Linked DNA regions of Homo sapiens. The protein of the gene in region 1 purifies or fractionates together with the protein of each later gene. This does not show direct contact. Each region holds a gene or a part of one and is shown on either strand. Other genes may lie near its edges.

Region 1 (3,817 bases):
TTTTGAGATGGAGTCTCACTCGGTCACCAAGGCTGGAGTGCAGTGGTGCAGTCTCAGCTCATTGCAACCTCCACTTCCAGGCTCAAGTGGTTATTGTGCCTCAGCCTTCTGAGTAGCTGGGATTACAGGCACACACCACTATGCCCAGCTAATTTTTGTATTTTTAGTAGAGACAGGGTTTCACCATGTTGGCCCCTCAAACTCCAGACCTCAGGTGATCCGCCTGCCTCAGCTCACCAAAGTACTGGGATTGCAGGCATGAGTCACTGAGCCCGGCCTGCTTTGCTTTTTGTTTTTGTTTTTTCTTCTACATTTCATGTTGAACCTGCTCTGACTGTGGAACCAAACAAGAGATTGCAAAACTTGCCTTCAGAGGAACAAGTCCGTGTGAAGCCAAAGCATCCCTCTGCCCCACCCTTCATCCTCTCTGATGCAGGAATAGTTAATGGGGGTTGGCAGAAACCTGCATGACAGCCACTTCCTGGGTGATATTGGCAAGGTGCCCGTGCAGATGGCTTTAGTTTTCTCACCTCTCACATGAGAGAATTGCACTAGGGCCCCAGGGCACAGGGTATGGGTGAGGTTTTCTCCATCCATATTCCACTTGCTTTACCTTACTCAAAGTTGGAGAATGGTCAAACACAAAAGCTAAACGTTTGGGGAGACTTAGTTGGGACGCTGCCCTTTGCTTCTGCATTTGTTCTGACCCAGCTGCTATCACACAGCAGAGCTGTGCAAAGAAAGAGCCAAAACAGGACTGACCACTTCCTCTGTCAGCTCAGCTCTCATTTTGGCTGCAGAGAACAATGAAAGTGCCTATTAAAACCCAGCAAGAAGAGAGGACTCTATAATAAGGAAAACCTCAGAGTACCATGTTTGAACTTATGGCCTGCATTTCTGCAGAGAGGTTAAGCTGTTCTTCCCAACCACTGAAATCCTGATTTCTCATCTCTGCTTTCTAAATATAATGACACCAAACTAGTGCACCTTCCCTTGGTCTTTTTAAGATCCCATCCAGTGCAGCATACGTGATATGTAGCTTCTCACTAGAAATGCTTTCTCTTCCCTGAAGCACGTTCGCTAAAGGCATGGAGCGTGTTGTACTCTATAGCCAGGAACTTCCTTTATATGCAGAATTGGAAATTCGAAGGAAAACTTAGGACCTGAGGTTTGGAGCCCTCTGGCCCAATTAGCATGCAAAATTATTAAAAACCAACAAATGAGGCAACTGAGACATAGGCCAAGGTCCCAGAAAAATGTTCTCCCCTCTCACCCCTTTTGCACCCTTAATTGTAAGGCAGAATTTGGAAACAGCAATCCAACACCAGCATCAAACCAGGATGTGTCTGAGTTAGTCTCATGTCCCTTGGGATCCAAGTCTGGAGAATATTGGCTGTTGGCTAAAGTCGTGGAGGATTTTTTAGGCAGACTTTTCTGAACCAGTGGTTTGCCTGTGAACTCGGAAGTATTTTAGGTGTCAGGGTATATTTGTTCCCTGTTATTTCCAGCTTGCCTAATCCAGAGTGTGGCAGCCGTTGCAAACAGTAAGAACATAGATGCTGTGTTGCCTAAGGCCATGTTTATGGAGAGATAGTTCCCCAGGTAAGAGTCAAGAGAATTAGCCAGAGGAGGTCTTTAGGAGTGCCTTTAGATTCCATAGAAGACAGCTACCATTTGCCATGTAGTGGAGAAACCAATTTCATCTACAAGGGCTGCATGTTAGCATCTATTTCAAAGTATCCCCAAGAGTATTAACACCTGAGAAACTATAGGATCCTCGGAGGCCTGGAGTGGCCTGGAGGTGGTGGGGTGGGGGTGGGGGCTCCAAGAGTGAATTCTGACCTCTCACCAGCTGTAATTCCACACCTGGAGAGCTTTAAGGATCCGTAAACTCAGAGGAAGAATGCGTTAGGTTGGAATGCAGTATGCTTGTCATAGAACCAGGCATATCTTTTCTGAATACAAAAATCATAATAGACCGGGCACAGTAGCTCACACCTGGAATCCCAGCACTTTAGGAGTCCGAGGTGGGTGGATCACCTGAAGGTCAGAAGTTCAAGACCAGCCTGGCCAACATGGTGAAACCCCGTCTCTACTAAAAATACAAAAAATTAGCTGGGCGTGATGGTGGGTGCTTGTAATCCCAGCTACTTGGGAGGCTGATGCAGGAGAATCACTTGAACCCAGGAGGCAGAGTTTGCAGTGAGCCGAGATCCCACCATTACACTCCAGCCTGGGCAACAAGAGCAAAACTTCATCAAAAAAAAAAAAAAAAATCGTAATATGTGTAGATAATGCCCAGGTATCCCTGTGAAGTCCACATTTCAGGGGAGCTGTATTTCACCTGATGAGGTTTGTGTAGCTACAGGACTTTACTTCTGCTGGGCAAGGGCGTGGATAGGGAATGTTTGGGTATGCAGTGCTAGCCTCTAATGAGTGTGTGTATAATGCGGCGAGTACTGAGTTTGGTGCCCCAAACTCATAGCATCTAAGAAACAAAGAAAAATTAATCAGTGCATGTGCTAATTCTTGAAGTTAAGCTTCTCTGCTAATACCTAGTACCCCTTGTCAGATTTACCCAAGTAGTGATACGGTGTAGATCTGATCAAAGTCACTGACTAACAGCTCCTACAGGAAAGCAAGAGAAAACAGAGGGAAGGACAAAATCACTTCCTTCCAGCTGCCTGAATACACGAAGGGTTTTTTGTGCTGGGACCTACCATACAGTCTAAAGCAGAACCTCTTGGTTCTCTTTGGTCATCTAGGGAATTAGAAGTGTTACCGATTATGTTGCTAAAAGATCCCTGGTCTCCTCACAGATTGGAAAATGTACCAGTGGTAATTTGTGTGAACTAGACATAGAAGGAAGAACAATTGAACCGAGATAACAATCTGCCTAGAGCTATTTGATTTCAGGGGCAGCTTTGAGACAAAATGCATGTTCAGAGAGGTTGAAAATGGAGAGAGTAGCTGAAATTATAGACTATTAGTGCTGCAAGGGGCCTTCACAATGATGTCATCGGTCATTTTCTAAAGGAGGAAACTCAGGCAGGGCAGGCTGACAGCTGGTGAAGTGTTCACTCCACTGCTCACCCTCAAATTGGAGCAGAAGCAGAAAGGGGCATACTGGTGGCATCAGGATAGCCTTGTAGTAAAGACAAGGAAGACAAAATCAATAAACATGGAGAAATAAGCCTAAGGCTTAAAGAAGAGACTAACCAGGAAACTGATCTGTTATGAACCTCCCTAGCCGACTGGACTTGGGATGGGAAGGAATCCTGACCGTAGGCAGGTTGTCCTTGTCTCTGAGGGCACTGATGAAAGCATTGACCAGGGTTCTGATCACACCCCACTCCCATCTCCCAGCCTCAGCTTCTGTTGTGTTGATGATAAATTGAGAATCAGACGCCTCGCTGGTGACGGTTTCTGCTGCCCAGAATGCAGAAAGGTCAGGAAGTGGATGTGTGCTCACGGCTCCCAGTCCTCCTGCTCATCAGGCTGGGAGTTTGGTGACTGAGGCTTACAGTCCTTTGAGAGCCTCATAAGTAGGTGGTCTTACCCTCCTTTTTTTATCCAGGAGGTGGCAACTGATCCTCCTCCTGCTCTCAGCCTCTTCTGTTAGAGGGAGGAGGGAGAGGAAGTGAATCATCTGCCCTAGCCTCCGTCTGTCCCCATTGCTTTCCTGGGGAGCGTGGGATGGGGAGACCTGTGGACTGCAGGATTTCAGCACCTGCTGAGATCACTGCCATCTAGATCTTCCCTCTTCTGGCTCGCTATTTCTTCTGCGCCCTTCATTCTGACTATTGAGGGGGAAATT
Region 2 (3,817 bases), on another chromosome or scaffold:
GGTTCACGCCATTCTCCTGCCTCAGCCTCCCAAGTAGCTGGGACTACAGGCGCCTGCCACTACGCCTGGCTGCCCGGCTAATTTTTTGTATTTTTAGTAGAGACGGGGTTTCACCATGTTAGCCAGAATGGTCTCGATCTCCTGACCTCATGATCCGCCCTCCTCGGCCTCCCAAAGTGCTGGGATTACAGGCGTGAGCCACCGCGCCCGGCCGTATCTTTGCTTCTTAATTTGCTTTTTGACTATTTTTCTACAAAATAGTTTTCTTGTAATATGTGCTCATTGTAGACTTGGAAAAGATAGAGAAATGCTAAGGAAAAAGGAAAAAATTCCTTCTAATATCACCTCCACAGAGGTTCATATTTTAGCCTTCTTGTGTGCCATATGTTTTCTGTGCTTTTTTAATTTACCAAGCTGAGATCATACCATATGTATTATTTTGTATCCTGCATTTTAAAGTCAATGTGGCAGTATAAGCATTTCCCAATCCAGAAATAGCTCTGCATAAATATGACTGCTGATGACAGTATAGTACTCCAGTATGTGGATGTACCATGATATTTGGACTTCACTATTTGTTCATTGATCATTTACATCCTGTGTTATGCTTGCACATAGGTCTTTGGGCAGATCGTAGCTAGTCATGCTCTTGAAAGGATTTCTAGCAGACTCTTTGGCATCAAAGAATACAAACATCTTTTTTTTTAAGCTTTGGTAAAACATGCATAACATGAACTTTGTCGTTTTAATCATGTTTAACTGCGGCAGTTAGGCGACATTAAGAACCTTCACGTTGTGCAGCCATCACCACCCTCCAGCTCCAGAACTCTTTCCATTTTGCAGAACTGAAACTCGGTGTCCCTTAAGCACTAACTCCCCATGTTCCCCTCCCCCCAGTCCCTGGCAACCACCATTCTACTTTCTGTCCCTGTGAAACGGACTACATCGGGTGCCTCATACAAGTGGAATCATACAGTATTTGTATTTTTTGTGATTTGTTTATTTCACTTAGAATACTGTACTCAAGGTTTCATCCATGTTGTAGCATGTGTCACGATTTCTCTCTTTTTAAGGCTGAATAATACCGTGTGTGTGGGGGTGTGTGTGTGTGTGTGTGTGTCTGTATGAATAGCACATTTTGTTTATCCATTCATCTGTTGATACACTTCAGTTACTTCTACCCTTCGGCTGTTGTGAATAATGCTGCTATGGACATGGGTGTATAAGTCCCTGCTTTCCATTTTTTTTTTGGTGAGCACAAGCTTTTTGGAACTCCTTAGTATATATGGTCAAATTGCAGTTGAGACATAGGGTGCTGGCTGGATTCTCACGGTGTCCACCCGCTGTCCTTAAACATGGCTAGGTTATCACCCCCAGGGTAAAAACCAGGCCTGCAGGAAAAGGAAGAGGGAGACTTCTTACCAAGCTATTTTGACAGATTGTGTAAACTCTGTGATTAATGGGATGAGAAAGCAGGAAGAATGTCTTTCATTTAAAAAAAAAAGAGCCTTCGGGGTTGCTTGGTTTTATTTTCAATTAAAAGGGTCTGATTTTGTTTCTGGAGAATGGTTTTAATTTGGATAAATGGTTCAGTCTGGGAACCACATGCCAGAGCCTATGATCTATGAGTGCAATTACTCAGGGTTTCCTCGGCTGCTTTTCTGAGGGAACGGTCCAGAACTGGGCTCGCTCTGGTTTGGCTCTGTTAAAACGTCGATGCAGGCCCTGGGCAGTTGGAGTGAGGCGGTTCTTGTGATCAGTCCTTGAAGTGCAGCCATAATGCCCTCCCCATAATGCCTTCCCCAACTGATGGTGGTTAATTTTTACCCTCTAAGAATGTGTTCACAATTCCAAATCAGGAATGTCAACAGCAGGCTGTCGTTTTCCCCTCCTTGGAACATGTTGAACCAGAATTACTGGCATCTTTTCCAACGTGGGCATTTGCAGAATTGGTGGGATTTGGGGGCTCAAGGAGGAGGCAGACTCATCCTAATGTTTCTCCTCTGGATTACTTGAGGTCCCTGGCCGGGCAGGCCTGCAGGCCCAGAGACGGGGTGGTGGGTTGCTCTATCTGGAGTCAACTGGTGTTTCTTTCCAAGAGGATGCTGGGCTGGGGGAGGTGAGGGACTAAATCCTGGGCGACTTTGCAGAAGGACCCGTCGCGATGGAGGGGCAGCGTGGGCAGAGGCCCTGGGCAGGGCCACCTGCTGTGTTCTGGAGTAGCAAAGGGGATTTGCAGAAGGCAAAGAAGAATACAAAGACACAAGGTAGGGTGTTTCACCCTTTCGGAGAACTGTGGCAAAGCCCTGGACAACTTTCCATGGCGCTTGTAGATTTGAGACCAATGCCCCAGCGACCTAGCGGGCTGGTGGGAGGCAGCGTGGAGGGCGGCAGGGTGTCCCCAGGGTGGGAGGTGGAGAGAGTCTGCACAGAAATTTCCAAGAGCACAGCCCATAAGGGAAGAATAGGCTTGCTCGTGAGGTGGGTGAAGGCATTGCCCTGCTGGCTTGTATCAGGGCGTTGGCTCCTGGGTCCTCAACAAAGGGCATATTAGCATAATGAATAGTTAAGTTACTTGGTTGGGCTTCAGTCCTTGGGGCCGTGGTCTCTTTCCGAGGGAAGGACTGGTGGGTGGGCCCCACCTCTGGAGATCCAGCCTGCATTGGGACCACGTGGTTTGAGAAATGTTTTCCCAAGCCTGGGCCACACGTGACCCTTGATTTCTGGGGCAGCCCTGGTGGCAACTCCCCACATATCCCTGTGAGGCCTTTCTCATTTTCCACTGGCAAGGATTCAGGTGTAACCAGATTATTCTGATGAAAAATTTGAGTGAGACAGGTAACCCGCAACACACAGAGTTGCTATGTTTTGCTCTTTTTTTTTTTTTTGAGACGGAGTCTCGTTCTGTCGCCCAGGCACGATCTCAGCTCACTGCAACCTCCCCATCCCGGGTTCAAATAATTCTTCTGCCTCAGCCTCCATAGCTGGGACTACAGACGTGTGCCACCACGCCCCGCTAATTTTTGTATTTTTAGTAGAGACAGTGTTTCACCATGTTGGCCAGGCTGGTCTCGAACTCCTGACCTCAGGCGATCTGCCCGCCTCGGCCTCCCAAAGTGCTGGGATTACAGGCCTTAGCCACTGCACCCGATCATGTGTTGCTCTTTAACTCCCCACCCCCACCTCCATTAAATAGGAATAATCCAAAACATAGGTCATCGAGAGCATACTGTGCTTTTAAGGCATTTTGCTTATTATTAGTAGAGATTTTGCGACAACTGGAATGGTGTTTATTCACTTTTTAAAGGCTCACTCTTCTCACAGGATAACAGAACACACGATCATTCATTTTCCTCTTCCCACGAAGGTGTTTGCAGCAGTGGGCGTGAGAAGCATAGTGTGTGTGTGACTACCGCGCGAATGGTTCTCCCAAACCTGGATCCCGACCTAGGCGTTGCCGTTGCCGGTCTCTGGGTGTCACCCTCCCATTTATGACTGTAGTGACTTCTCAGAACGCCCTGGAGGGATGGCCTTACTCCAAATGGTCCCTCGGCTGCCGGGCTATTTGTGAGTAAAAGATGTTTGTCAGTGCTGCTTCTTTTAGAACATGCCCATTCCACATCAGCTCAGCTTGTCGGGTGTCTGGTTGTCTGTGCGGAGCCCATGGGGAGGTCTCTGCAGCCTCACACCTAGCAGTGAGGTGGCCCCTCTGCGTGGTCATGCCCTGCGGAGTTGCATTCCTCTCCCTGATGGCTGGCTGCCAGGACCTGTGGGCCCTGGCGGTGAGAGGAGTGGGAGGTGCTGTGGCTCCTGCCAG

What was found.
Region 2: the proteins of PRAG1 (region 1) and TNS3 purify together in Homo sapiens (affinity purification with mass spectrometry, with the first as the bait; one large-scale study listed by BioGRID). This does not show direct contact.

What each region holds. Positions count from the first base shown.
Region 1 is NC_000008.11:8,330,623-8,334,439, reverse strand, and holds part of PRAG1 (inactive tyrosine-protein kinase PRAG1), read left to right. Parts: intron 1-3,817. UniProt on the Homo sapiens protein: Catalytically inactive protein kinase that acts as a scaffold protein. Functions as an effector of the small GTPase RND2, which stimulates RhoA activity and inhibits NGF-induced neurite outgrowth.
Region 2 is NC_000007.14:47,571,930-47,575,746, reverse strand, and holds part of TNS3 (tensin-3), read left to right. Parts: intron 1-3,817. UniProt on the Homo sapiens protein: May act as a protein phosphatase and/or a lipid phosphatase. Involved in the dissociation of the integrin-tensin-actin complex. EGF activates TNS4 and down-regulates TNS3 which results in capping the tail of ITGB1.